Linked DNA regions of Homo sapiens. Changing the gene in region 2 together with the main gene of any one other region gives a genetic interaction. Each region holds a gene or a part of one and is shown on either strand. Other genes may lie near its edges.

Region 1 (4,112 bases), on a different chromosome or scaffold from region 2:
AGAAACTCCGTGGGCCTTGGCAGCCCCTCCCACTCCTCCCGTCCTCCACCTCCAGGCACCACTGCCAGTGCCATACTCACCAGGCTCCACTATGGGCTTGTCTTCGTGTGACTTCTGTCTCTATCGATTTGTCTATTCTGAACTCTTCATATAAAACGAACCATACAACTTGTGGCCGTTTGTGTCCGGAATCTTTCTTTAAAAAAAAAAATTCACCGGGCGTGGTGGCTCACGCCTGTAATCCCAGCACTCTGGGAGGCGGAGGCGGGCGGATCACAAGGTCAGGAGATCAAGACCATCCTGGCTAACACGGTGAAACCCCGTCTCTACTAAAAACATAAAAAATTAGCCAGGCTTGGCAGGCGCCTGTAGTCCCAGCTACTCTGGAGGCTGAGGTGGGAGAATGGCGTGAACCCGGGAGGCAGAGGTTGCAGTGAGCTGAGATCATGCCACTGCACTCCAGCCTGGGAGACAGAGCAAGACTCCATCTCAAAAAAAAAAAATTCACTTTTATTTTTGAGACAGGGTCTCCCTCCATTGCCCAGGCTGGAGTTCAGTGGCACAATCAGCTCACTGCAGCTTCAACCTCCTGGGCTCAAGCAATCCCCTCACCTCAGCCTCCTGAGTAGCTGGGATTACAGACATGCAACACTATGCCTGGTTAATTTTCTATTTTTTGTAGAGACGAGGTCTTACTATGTTGCCCAGACTGCTCTGGCACTCCTGGGCTCAAAAGATCCTCCTGCCTCGGCCTCCCAAAGTGCTGAGATTACAGGCGTGAGCCACCACACCCGGCTATTTTTATTTTTTAGTTGACACATAATAATTGTACATATTTGTGGGGTACGTAGTGATGTTTCTGTACGTGTATAGTGATCAGATAAGGGTAATTAGCATACCTATCATCTCAAACATTTATTATTTCTTTGCATTACGAACACTCAATATTCTCCTTCAAGCTATCTGAAAATACATAATTTTTGTTTTGAGACAGGGTCTCACTCTGTTGCTGTCTTCACGGAGAGCAGGAGCAGAGGCTTTGAGAAGCCAGTGGGCCTTGGCCTCAGCCCTGCCGGCAGAGGGTCCCCACCATGCAGCTGAAGTGCCAGGGTGCTTGTGAAGTCTAAGCCCTTGTCTGGCATTTGTCAGGAATATAGGGTGAGGCCTCTGGGACCGAGCGGGGCGGGGCGGGGCGGGGCGGGGCGGGGCGGGACCAACAGCGCACACTTAAGCGGCCCGGGCGGGTACCGCCGTCCCGCCATGGCTCTGAGGCGCGCCCTGCCCGCGCTGCGCCCCTGCATTCCCCGCTTCGTCCCGCTGTCCACGGCGCCGGCCTCCCGCGAGCAGCCCGCAGCGGGCCCAGCGGCCGTGCCAGGAGGTGGGTCGGCCACGGCAGTGCGGCCGCCGGTGCCCGCCGTGGACTTCGGCAACGCGCAGGAGGCGTACCGCAGCCGGCGAACCTGGGAGCTGGCGCGGAGCCTGCTGGTGCTGCGCTTGTGCGCCTGGCCCGCGCTGCTGGCGCGCCACGAGCAGGTGCGCGGGGTGCAGGCGGGGGCGCGGGGGCTTCTGCCGGTCCCGGGAGCCTTTACGGAGCTTCCTGGCCTGAAACGGGTGCCTCCCAAGCATCTCCTGGAGCAAGGGAAGCCAGGAAGGGAGGCGTTTCCTGCAGTCCCTCTCGGACCTCGCAAATTTTCCTATTTGTCGATGTCTACCAACTAAAAACAATGGTCGTTTTCATATTTACGATATATACCACTTGTGGGAATACAGAGTTATCACTTGGAATTTAAAATGGAGTATTCTTCATGTTGAGACAAGAGAATCCTGGTGTAGGGCTCATAGCCTGGAACCCCGGAATTCAAACCCCGGGACCCAGCAGCTTCCCAGACACGGCCACTCTGAGAACACTGTTGGGGAAAAATGGGAAGCCCCTCAAACGCCCAGCTTTGAACTCACCCATGGTAGCTTTAAAAAGTGTCAGGGCTTTTGGTGGCGGTGGTGGGGGGCAACAAGCAGAACACTGTTTTAGCCGCATCAGCCTAGGGGTACTAGAGATGACGGTTATCTCCAGGTGACCCTGGGAAGAGTTTGCAAGGTTCCGCTTTTTGGCGCCAGGGTATCTGGTGGTGTTGATTTCTCAGGTGAGACTGTACAGAGGTCGGGGGCTGCACCCCTGGCCTCAACAGGAGGCGGGGGAAGGCGGGGGACGGTGTCAGATGAGAAGCACCGAGCCACAGTTGAGCTTAGGTGAGGCCTCGGCGGGTGCGAGGTGAGGGCAGGGATCCACGAACTCAGAGTCAGATGCTGTTGGCCCGAATCCCATGGGGAGCGCCAAGGTCAGCCTAGGACCCGTGGTGGCGGGAGTGCGGAGGATGGTGGAGGAAGAAGGAGCTGAACTGGACAGATGGAGGGCTCTGGGAGGGCATTGCTGTGTGTGCACACAAGGATGTCTTAAGGTCAAGTTTTGGTCATAGAGAGCCCCGGCCAAGGAGACAGGAGGGCGAGAAGGGACATCCCAGGTAGAGGAACTGGCAAGGTGAGGGACGGCGATGTGGAGGCTTTGGGGAGTGCCCACATCTAAGGGGCATCCCAAAAGAGGAGCCAGTGCTGGTGGTGCTGCAATAGGAGGAGGAGGCAGCAGGGCAGAAATGCCAGGGGAGGGAGTGGCCAGCCACAGGTCCCTGCCCAGGGCAAGGACGGGCATGCTAGGTGGCAGCTGGGGCCAGTCGTGCAGAAGCCATGCCCACCTTGTGGCCGGGATGGAGTGGGGACTAGGAAGGCACCAGGTCAGGTTTCTGTAGGCACAGCCCTAAGCATGGCTGGGATGGGGAGGGGGCTAGGAAGGCACCAGGTCAGGTTTCTGTAGGCACAGCCCTAAGGTTTCTTGTCTAGATTCAAGACAAGTTGTTGCACAGAGAAGCCAGCAGAGCTGGGTGTGGGGTTTGGTGCCCAGTCTGCTGCGGGGAATGCCAGGTGCTGTTCCGTGACTGTGGGAGGAAACTGTTGGCTCCGCTGTCCCTTGGGTGCCTTCTTGAGGCAAGTGCCAGGGCTCAGGGATGGTGCTGTGAGTACCTGGAAGAGGCAGGGCATCCAGAGGTGACCTCTCCCAGGCTCCCCTAGGGTCCCACCTGTGCCCTGGGAAGTCCCTCAGTGGGGTCTGTACTGTTGTCTTGCTAGTGGTCCCATGGGTGTCGGCAGCCTCAGCACTGGAAGAAGGCAGAGGCCAGGTCCTGGGCTTGTGAGCTGCTCACTAGAACCTGGTCCTGTGAGCGGGCCAGAGGGGAGTTCCTTCCCTCACCCTCTGGGCTGTGGGGAGATTCCTTCTGCTGAGCCAGCACAGGTCTGTGAGGCACCCGGGCAGTGAGGCCACATCTGCCACAGGCGTGTCAGGTTGTAGTAGCTGATCTTTGAGCTGCTGCCTTGGATGGGGACAGCAGTGGGGCCCGCCCTTGCCTGAAAGCCAGACTTATTGAGGAGGGTTTAGGAAAGTCCCAGGATTTCCATGACAACAGCACTGAGGTTGGGTGTGCGCCCTCACAGAAGGGACAGGACCCGTGGTGACAGTGGTTCCCTGAGTGGGGGGAGGGGAGAGAACCGGCTCTACCAGTGTTACTCTGCACACATTTGGTTGAGTCTTTCACAGGGGGTACAAGTGTATGTGTTACTGGTGCAGGTTTCTAAATCCTCGAAGGATCTCCTCACCTGAAGAAGATGTGGGGCTGCCCTGGTCTCAGGTAGTGCCATGCGGGGACATCAGTGACACCAGGATGGTGTTAAAGTGGTTGCTTTGCTGTGGAGTCAGCTTTAAAATTACAAGCCCTAGGCTCATGCCTAGGCATGGTGGCTCATGCCTGTAATTCTAGCACTTAAGGAGGTCAAGGCAGGAGGATCATTTAAGGCTAGGAGTTCAAGACCAGCCTGAGCAACATCGTGAAACCCTGTCTCTACAAAATATTTTTAAAAGTTAGCTGGGGCCAGGTGCGGTGGCTCATGCCTGTCATCCCAGCACTTTGGGTGGCCGAGGCGGGTGGATCACCTGAAGTCAGGAGTTTGAGACCAGCCTGGCCAACATGGAGAAACCCCATCTCTACTAAAAATATAAAAATTAGCTG
Region 2 (3,567 bases):
AGGCGGAGGTTGCAGTGAGCGAGATTGTATCATTGCACTCCAACCTGGGGGACAGAGTGAGACTCTGTCTCTAAATAAATAAATAAGAAAAAATAAAATAAAAAATAATACACGTGGTCGGCCTGCAATCCACACATGCCCTGGAGTGTGGGTGACATAGGGACAGCATTGTCCTACTCCCTCATCCTCCCCCTTCCGCCCCCTGGACCCGCGGGATCACAGCAGTGCGTTCTGTCTGCCAGGGCCACAGGCTTCCTCTGCTCTCACTCAGCTGAAGAAAAAGTACTGGGTCCCCAGCCAGAGGACAACTGCTGTGCTGGGCTGAAGGGAGAAGTGTGTGGTGGTCTCCAAGTAACCAGCTTCCTGGGGGCTCAGCAGGCGGAATCCTGCCCATCACGCTTATGTACTGGCAGGAGTGTCTGGCTGTGATTGGAGGTGTGTGTGCTCTGTACAGAATCGACTGGTGTTGCTTAGATGTCCAGAGTGGGAGGGGAGAGGGGAAAAAACAAAACCTTAAAATTCTGGAAAGGAAGGAAGAAAGGAAAAAACAGAGGGAGGGAGGGAAAGGAAAGAAAGGAATGGAATAAAAGTCTTCATGCCACAGAACTGTGCCCTGGAGGACTAAAATCAGCCAACCTGCTAACCAGTTACTGGAGCTGTAAGATGCTCACTTAAATCTTGTCTCAACCAAAGTTTCCTTCTGAAGACCTTGCTTTCAGCCGCAGCTATAAGTCCTAAAACCAAATGCCTCCTGGATCTGTCTCCTAGAAACTTCACAGTATCTCAGGCTCACCAGGTGCCACAAAGCCGCTCCTCCTCCTGGGTCCCCATGTGGGGACAGGCCCAAGGTCTACCTGGTCACCAGCCCGGCTTCCTAGCCTGCAACTCTTGCCCTCCACATGGCCTGAGAGGGCTCTTACTATACCCAGACATGGCCCTGCCCCTCCCTTCCTCAGAGCCCTCAGTGGCTCCCAGCACCCTTGGACAAGGCCCCAGCCCCTCAGCTCCTCCATGGCCCTGACATTTTCAGCCTCCTTAACCATGCTCCAACACCGCAATTTCTCCCAAATGTACCAGGCTCTACTCCCGTTTGGGGTTTGGATTGGCTGTCTCCACTCCTGCCATCCCCCACCGACTGTCCCCCTTCCCGCCATCTCCAACTGTCCCCTCTCCCGCCATCCCCCCTGGGCTGTCTCCTCTCCTGCCATCCCTCCCCCGGCTGGCCCTCTCCCACCATCACTTCCCCGGCTGTCCCTCTCCCGCCATCCCTCCCCCGGCTGTCCCTCTCCTGCCATCCCTCCCCCGGCTGTCCGTCTCCCGCCATCCCTCCCCCGGCTGTCCGTCTCCCGCCATCCCTCCCCTGGCTGTCCCCTCTCCCACCATGCCTCCCCTGGCTGTCCCCTCTCCCGCCATCCCTCCCCTGGCTGTCCCCTCTCCCGCCATCCCTCCCCTGGCTGTCCCCTCTCCCGCCATCCCTCCCCTGGCTGTCCCCTCTCCCGCCATCCCTCCCCTGACTGTCCCCTCTCCCGCCATCCCTCCCCTGGCTGTCCCCTCTCCAGCCATCCCCCTGGCTGTGCCCTCCCCCACCATCTCCCCCCCCAATGGCTGTCCCCTCTCCCGCGATCATCCTGGCTGTCCCTCTCCCGCCAGCCCCCCGGCTGTCCCCTTTCCTACCATCACCCTGTCACCTCTCCCACCATCCCCCTCTAAGCTTCCCTCTATGCCAGAAGAAGCCATGCTTTCTTTCAAGTGAGGCTGGGGGTCTCTACTGGCCTCCACAGGGCCTCCATCAGAGCACAGATCATACTGAGTTATGCCCACAGCATGGGGTTTTCCAAGTGAAGGAACCGGGTCTGCTCATCTCGGGGAACCCAGCATCACCAAGCATGAGCCTGGAGCATGGAAGGCCTCAGAAAACAAATGGTGAATGCACAGAAAGGAGAAACACACAACAAACAAACCAAGAGAGGTACACCTGGCAAGAGACACAGCAAGGAGGAGGAGATGCAGACAGGGACAGGGAGAGAGGCCGGCCGCCATGCCACCTGCAGGGAGTAGTGGAGGCTGGAGGAGGCTGGGTGCAGCGTGAGGTTCTGGAAGGGCTGGATTCGGGGCTGGCCCCAGCCCTTGTCATTCCATTCCACCATCAGCATGTGGTCGGTAAATGTCTTCCCAAACACCAGGGGCTCGCCGGGGCCAGGCTTCTTATGAGGCTTCTGTGTCATTTCCAGCTGCAGGTCTGCAGCCTGAGGAAAGACAGGGGTATCCTAGAATCTGGCCACAACCTCCCAGCTGAAAAACTACAACTCCCATGAAGCCCTGGGCCTCAGACCCATAGAGAAGAAGGACCTGTCACCCTGGAGGATTCTGGGACATGCAGTTTCATCCCTTGTCTGCGGCCCAATGGCAGGCTGTTAAGCTACCACCACTCACTGCCATCTCTGGGCTGTGGACCTTTTGGAGATGCCCAAAACCAGCTGCCAGCCCCCTCCTCTCTCAGAGCCAAGCATCGAGTTCCCTCCTTTCACCTTGAAACTGGAGGAGGCATATCTTCTGGGACCACACAGAAGCCAAGGGACAGAGAGAAGCTTTCGTGCCCAGATCTGGGTGGAGAAAGAAGTGAGAGAGGGGGTGAGTGGGGCACAGCAGGGGCCCTGGCAGCTCGCTCGCCACCTCCTGCACTTGGAGGTCCCACTGGCCTGCCTGTTCTGTCCCAGTTTCAGTCCATTCTAGACGGGGCAGGTGGTCCTGAAGGAGGCCAAGTCCCCTCCCTGCCCTGACGAGGGCTCGCTGGAAAGAGCTGAGTCAGCTCCCGCCCCCTCCTCCATGCTGCGGCAAAGTCAAACGCAAGCGCCTCCCACCCCAGAGACCTTTGGTCGCAGCCTGGAGATCAGCTCAGACAAGAAAACAACCAGGGAAGGCACACAGGTAAGTGAAGGCCTCCGGGTACCCAAGTGCTGACAGGCCTTAGAAGACCAAGGACCGACAGGTCCTGCTCCCCCAGAGCTCAGGGGTGCAGACCCCAGGCCCGCCTCCCTCAGACCTAAGTAAGAGTCCAGACTCTAGCTGCCTCCTCCCTCAGACCCGAAGTCTGGGCCCCCAGCCCCTCCTCCCTCAGACCCTGGAGTCCAGGCCTCAGACCCTCCTCCCTTACATCCAGGAGTACAGGCCCCACCCCTCCTCCCTCAGACCCAGGAGTCCAGTTCCCCAGCCCCTCCTCCGCCAGACCCAGGAGTACAGGTGCTTATTCTCTGAAGGTATTCGATCAACTGGGCTCTGATTACCTGAAATACAAACCCATTTTGGCAGTGACTCCAATTCCCTTCAGCCCCTGGGGCTGAGGGGCAGCTACAGGGGCCTGGGGAGCCACTGCAGTCCTCACTGCATGAGGCTCAGGCGGGTCCTCCCAGAGGGGAGTAGGAAGAGCAGGTCTGGCTGTGTCCAGCAGGCTGGGCCCTCTCTGGTGACCTTTGACCTCACAAGGCCTCTTTCCCCAGCCCTGTGGGGAGGCGTTGGGGCGTGAGGTTGAGAGAGACAGAGTGGCCTGGCCTGGCCTGCCCTGTGAGC
Region 3 (3,567 bases), about 31 Mb from region 2:
GGCCAGATGGTGTGGACGGTCTCTCCATATGGCCTGAGGACCCCCCGCTGCCTTCCTCACACAGCACAGCATCCACCAGCATCAATGCTATGGCTGCAGTCACTGTAGAAGACCTCATCAAACCTCGGCTGCGGAGCCTGGCACCCAGGAAACTCGTGATTATCTCCAAGGGGCTCTGTGAGTTTCAGGGAGACCTGGGTGGGAGGCCAGGGCAGTCCCTCCCCGTTGACCGTGCCATCCTCATCCACTACAGCACTCATCTACGGATCGGCCTGTCTCACCGTGGCAGCCCTGTCCTCACTGCTCGGAGGAGGTGTCCTTCAGGTGAGACCCCACCTGCCCCCTGCCCTGGTCTCCTGAGAGGTGGGGGCACCTTTCCCTCTTTCCCATTAAACTGAGGCTCAGAGAGGTCACATGTGTCAGTGGCAGAACTCACTTCTATGTTTTTTTTTTTTTTGAGATGGGGTCTCACTGTGTTGTCCCAGGTTGGTGAGCAGAGGCCCGATCATAGCTCACTGCAACCTCCAGCTCCTGGGTTCAAGCCATCCTTCCACCTCAATCTCCCAAGTAGCTGGAGTTACAGGTGTGTGCCACCATGCCTGGCTAATTTTTTTCTTTTTTCTTTTTTTTTTTTTTTTGAGGTGGAGTGTCACTCTGTTGCCCAGGCTGGAGTGCAGTGGCATGATCTCAGCTCGCTGCAACCTCCACCCCCTGGGTTCAAGGAATTCTGCCTCAGCCTCCAGAGTAGCTGGGATTACAGGTGCATGCCACCATGCCCGTCTAATATTTTTGTATTTTTTTTTCTTGAGACGGAGTCTCGCTCTGTTGCCCAGGCTGGAGTGCAGTGGCACCATCTTGGCTCACTGCAAGCTCAGCCTCCTGGGTTCACGCCATTCTCCTGCCTCAGCCTCCCGAGTAGCTGGGACTACAAGCGCCCGCCACCACGCCTGACTAATTTTTTGTATTTTTAGTAGAGATGGGGTTTCACCGTGTTAGCCAGGATGGTCTCGATCTCCTGACCTCGTGATCCGCCCTCCTCGGCCTCCCAAAGTGCTGGGATTACAGGCGTGAGCCACCGCGCCCAGCTTATATTTTTGTATTTTTATTAGAGATGGGACTTCACCATGTTGGCCAGTCTGGTCTCGAACTCCTGACCTCAAGTGATCCACCCGCCTCTGCCTCCCAAAGTGTTGGGATTACAGGTGTGAGCCACCACGCCTGGCCTGGCTAATTTTAAAACTTGTTTTTAGAGACAGGGTCTCGCTTCGTGCCTAGGCTTGTCTTGAACTCCTGGCCTCAAGCAACCACCCGCCTCAGCCTTCCAAGTCGCTGAGATTAAGAACTAAGTTCTATTTGATGCCAGAGGCCATCAGGGGACTTTTTTGCAGCTGGCTGGCTTGGGGTGGGGGAATTGGGAAGGGGGAGGTGGCGACAGAAAGGGCCTCCCTATGGAGGTTGCAGTGAGCCAAGATCGCGCCACTGCACTCCAACCTGGACAGCAAAGTGAGACTCTGTCTAAAAAAAAAAAAGAAGAAGAAAGGGTCTCCCTGGCTTGAGGGTGGGACTGCCACCCCCAAGAGATAATCAGTGTCTTTGCCTCCAACCCAAGGGAGATAGGCAGGAACAAGGGGGGGGGGTCCTCTCCCCTTTAGGGAAACTGAGACACAGAGGAGTCCTTGAGACCCACATTGGAGTTCCTGAGGTCTCGCTTTCCCAGCGGGTAAACTGAGGCCCAGAGCGGTGGGAGGGCTCCGCCCTCAGCCCCACTTCCACCTACTCTCCCAGGGCTCCTTCACCGTCATGGGAGTCATCAGCGGCCCCCTGCTGGGAGCCTTCATCTTGGGAATGTTCCTGCCGGCCTGCAACACACCGGTGAGTGGGGGCGGGGCAAGGGGCGGGGAGGGGCGGGGCCGGACAGGCCCCTCCCCTTCCCTGACGCCGGCTCTGCCCCCAGGGCGTCCTCGCGGGACTAGGCGCGGGCTTGGCGCTGTCGCTGTGGGTGGCCTTGGGCGCCACGCTGTACCCACCCAGCGAGCAGACCATGAGGGTCCTGCCATCGTCGGCTGCCCGCTGCGTGGCTCTCTCAGTCAACGCCTCTGGCCTCCTGGACCCGGCTCTCCTCCCTGCTAACGACTCCAGCAGGGCCCCCAGGTGAGCAGACTTGAGGGTAGGGGGGTACCCGAGCCCTGGATGGTGTGATCTTGAAGGGAAACTTACTTGCCCTGCACTCTGTGTAAGAAGCCTGATTAGTAAAATGCATTCCTGGGGGAGGGAACGGTAGGTGCAAAGGCCCTGAGGCCACAATCGGGTTAGTCCCAGTCCAACTGCACTGAGGTTAGGGTGCATTTAATGGGAGGAGAGATGGGTGGGAGATATGGTGCAGCCAGAGGAAGCTAGTACTTTTTTTGTTTTGTTTTTCTGAGACAGAGCCTCGCTCTGTGGTCCAGGCTGGAATGCAGGGGTGCAATCTCAGCTTACTGCAGCTTCAACCTCTCAGGCTCAAGCAATCCTCCCAGCTTGAGGGAGGCCCAGAATTTGGTTTGGTTCTATTTTTTATTGAGATAAATTAGCCATTTAAAAGTGGCATTTAGGCCAGGCAGGCACAGTGGCTCACACCTGTAATCCCAGCACTTTGGGAGGCTGAGGCAGGTGGATCACCTGAGGTCAGGAGTTCAAGACCAGCTTGATCAACATGGGGAAACCCCCGTCTCTACTAAAAATACAAAACTTAGCCAAGCGTGGTGGCAGGTGCCTGTAATCCCAGCTACTCGGGAGGCTGAGACAGGAGAATCGCTTGAACCCAGGAGGTGGAGGTTGCAGTGAGCTGAGATCGCACCACTGTATTCCAGCCTGGGCAACAAAAATGAAACTCCAACTCAAATAAATAAATTAAAGTGGCATTTAGTATATTTGTGCAACCATCACCACTATCTAAGTCAAGAACGTTTCCTCTTTTTTTTTTCTAATTTTGTATTTTTAGTACAGATGGGGTTTCACCATGTTGGCCAGGCTGATCTTGAACTCCTGACCTCAGGTGATCCGCCCACCTCAGCCTCCCAAAATGCTGGGATTACAGGTGTGAGCCACTGTGCCTGGCCCCAAAAACATTTTCTATTTTTTTTTTTTTTTGGAGCAGGGTCTTGCTCTGTTGCCCAGGCTGGAGTCCAGTGGCACGATCATAGCTCACTGCTGCCTCAACCTCCTGGGCTCAAGGAATCTTCCTACCTCAGCCCCCCTAGTTGCTGGGACCACAGGTGCACACCATCATGTCCTGCTTGTTTTTATTTTTATTTTTTGTAGAGACAGGGTCTGGCTATGTTGCCCAGGCTGGTCTGGAATTCCTGGGCTCAAGCGATCTGCCCACCTCAGCCTTGCAAAGTGCCAGGATGACAGGTGTGGGCACCCAGCCAACCAAGAACATTTTCTGTTTTGTTTATTTATTTATTTATTTATTTTGGTTTTTTGGGTGGGTTTTTTTGCTTTTTGTTTATTTGATTTTTTGGAGACAGGGTCTCACTCTAACACCCAGGCTGGAGTGCAATGGCACAATCACAGCTCACTGCACCA
Region 4 (2,400 bases), on a different chromosome or scaffold from region 2:
TTCCACAGTGGCCGTCCGTCCTCCGGGTGCCCCATAACCAACTTTTCGATTCCTCTCTACTTCGTCCTCCCACTCTTCTTTCTTCTTATTATTATTATTTTTATTTTTATTTTTGAGACGGAGTCTCGCTCTTTTGGCCAGGCTGGAGTGCAATCGTGAGATCTTGGCTCACTGCAACCTCCCTCTCCCGGGTTCAAGTGATTATCCTGTCCCAGCCTCCTTAGCAGCTGGGATAACAGACATGCACCACCATGCCTGGCTAATTTTTTTTCTATTTTTAGTGGAGATGGGATTTCAGTGTTGGCCAGGCTGGTCTCAAATTCCTGACCTCAAATGATCCGTCTGCCTGGGCCTCGCAAAATGCTGGGATTAAGGCATGAGCCACCACGCCCGGGCCCACTCTTCCTTCTTAGATTCCCCATCAACCATGGATTCCTTCTGCGAAGCAGGGAGATTCAGGTCAGTCCAGTTCCTGCCACCACACTTCTCCCCAGGTCCATCAATGCTCAGAAGAATGGAAGGGCTTTTTGTACATTCGTTTTTATTGTCCTGAGTGGGATGAATAAGTTTCTAATATACAAATTTCCCCCTCCTCATACATGGAAAAGAAACTGACAGAGGCCCAAATCGTTTCCTGGCAGCCCAGAATTCCCAGGTAACTGACCAAAGTCTCCTGCCTTCTGTCCTCATGCTGATCTGTTTGTATGAGCAACTGGGGCAACCCCTCGCATGGTTGCTGGGACAGCCGCCCACAGCCTCAGCTCCAGGAAGCACTAGGGGGTCACTGAGGCTGGACAGCAACTTAGGAAGTGGCCCCTAAGTGACTCTACCCATGGGGTTCAGGCCATCGGTGTGGCCTGAACATATTGGTCCTGGGGTGGAGGAACACTGCAGAGCCACAGAAATGCCACGAAACAGCCAGCTACTGCCCCCCACAATCCCCGCGACTAGTTAAAATGCAGATTCCTGACCCCACCCTGAGTGAGGATTCAGGGTGAGTGTGGGATCTGCAAACTTAAATTTCCCAGTGATTCTGATGTGGGATAGTCTAGAAGAATAGTTCCAGAGGCAATCATTTAGATCCTAAAACTGTGGGGAGTGGGGACAGGGTGAACGAGGTGCCCCCAGGTTCCACCCACCCCTCACTCTAGAGCTAAGGCCTCCCAGGAGGGAGTGCTGAGGAGGCAATGACCAGGCCTGAGCCAGGGTTCGGTCCCTGTCTTTCCACCAGCGTTGAGTTGATGGGAGTCAAGCTGTTCTCTCCAGGGTGCAAGCAGGGAAGGGGTTCTTGGGGATAGAAGGGTTCCCCATTGAATGGAAGGCAGTTCTGGGCCCAGGGAGGTGCCCAAGTTGGGTGGCCTGGGGAGGAGGAGGTGGGTGGCGGGGGAGCAACGGAAAAGGTTAACAGCCTGGAGAGCAAGGGTCGTCCCTCCAGCCACTGATTCCACCACCCAGGACGTGGCGCATGGGTCCTCAGGGGTGATATCTGGGCTGGTTCCGGGTCTGGGTCCCAGGTCCCCACCAGTGTGGCAGTGACTGTAGGGGGGCCTTGTGGGAGCAGAACGGGGTGAGAAACTGCGGGTGGGAGAGGGGCAAGGCACAGCTTCGCAGTCAGGCCTGTCCTCTAACGACCCAGGAATGCCAGACGCAGTGGCCAGGCGGGGCGGGGCTGCGGAGAGTCCCAGGACTGCGCTCCGAGAAAAGCTGGCTCTTCCTGGAAAAGGAAGGTCCTGCGGGGCCAGCGCGCGACCGGGGCTGCCGTCCCTCCGGGTGAGGCCGCGGGCCCGCCCCTTGTCCTCCCCGCCCCTCCCCGGGCTCGGGAGGCGGGGTCCGACCGCCCCCTGGCGGCAGCCGGGAGGGAACGACGGGGGCGACGACCGACGCATGGTCCCAGCGCGCGTGCGCCCCTGAAGGCGGGTTCCGGTGGCAGCGCCGGGGTCTCAGACCCTGAGGAGACTGAGCCCAGCGCCAGGCGACCGGTCCCCGCCGCCGCCGCCCCTGCGCGGGAGATCCCCCCTGCTTAGTCCGCGCCCGAGCCCCCGTCCGTGGGAACAGACAAGGGGCCTCCGCAGCGCCTCACAACCCCCGACCAGGTCCAGCGGCGGGGGACTCGGCCGTGGAGGGCGCTGTTCGGTCTGGATGGCTCCCCCCATCAGCGGGAGGCTACACCCCCCACCAGCAGGGGCAAGAGGAGCAGCGGGATGGGAGCAGGCCAACGTCCTGCGGCCTGGTTGAGCTCGCACTGACAATCGCAGGTTTCGGACACGGGGGTCGCTTTGGGGGGCCTGGGGGCGCGGGGACCAGAGCTCGGGGCGGGGCAGTCCAGCCAGTTGGGCCCCATGGGCTGGGGGGCGTCCGGCTCGGTCTTGATGCTGTTCTTGGGGAAGCGCCAGTAGTGGG

The links.
Region 1: changes in BCAT2 (region 2) and PRODH together harm fitness more than expected from each alone (negative genetic interaction), as found in Homo sapiens cells (one large-scale study listed by BioGRID).
Region 3: changes in BCAT2 (region 2) and SLC5A5 together harm fitness more than expected from each alone (negative genetic interaction), as found in Homo sapiens cells (one large-scale study listed by BioGRID).
Region 4: changes in BCAT2 (region 2) and MMP25 together harm fitness more than expected from each alone (negative genetic interaction), as found in Homo sapiens cells (one large-scale study listed by BioGRID).

What each region holds. Positions count from the first base shown.
Region 1 is NC_000022.11:18,933,436-18,937,547, reverse strand, and holds the start of PRODH (proline dehydrogenase 1, mitochondrial isoform 1 precursor), read left to right. Parts: upstream 1-1,254; 5' UTR 1,255-1,260; coding exon 1,261-1,533; intron 1,534-4,112. UniProt on the Homo sapiens protein: Converts proline to delta-1-pyrroline-5-carboxylate.
Region 2 is NC_000019.10:48,804,472-48,808,038, forward strand, and holds part of BCAT2 (branched-chain-amino-acid aminotransferase, mitochondrial isoform a precursor), read right to left. Parts: exon of another isoform or gene 2,898-3,567; intron 2,604-2,897; coding exon 2,529-2,603; intron 2,247-2,528; coding exon 2,046-2,246; intron 1-2,045. UniProt on the Homo sapiens protein: Catalyzes the first reaction in the catabolism of the essential branched chain amino acids leucine, isoleucine, and valine. May also function as a transporter of branched chain alpha-keto acids.
Region 3 is NC_000019.10:17,881,896-17,885,462, forward strand, and holds part of SLC5A5 (sodium/iodide cotransporter), read left to right. Parts: intron 1-64; coding exon 65-177; intron 178-253; coding exon 254-324; intron 325-1,785; coding exon 1,786-1,872; intron 1,873-1,954; coding exon 1,955-2,151; intron 2,152-3,567. UniProt on the Homo sapiens protein: Sodium:iodide symporter that mediates the transport of iodide into the thyroid gland. Can also mediate the transport of chlorate, thiocynate, nitrate and selenocynate.
Region 4 is NC_000016.10:3,058,851-3,061,250, reverse strand, and holds the end of MMP25 (matrix metalloproteinase-25 preproprotein), read right to left. Parts: coding exon 2,153-2,400; 3' UTR 525-2,152; downstream 1-524. UniProt on the Homo sapiens protein: May activate progelatinase A.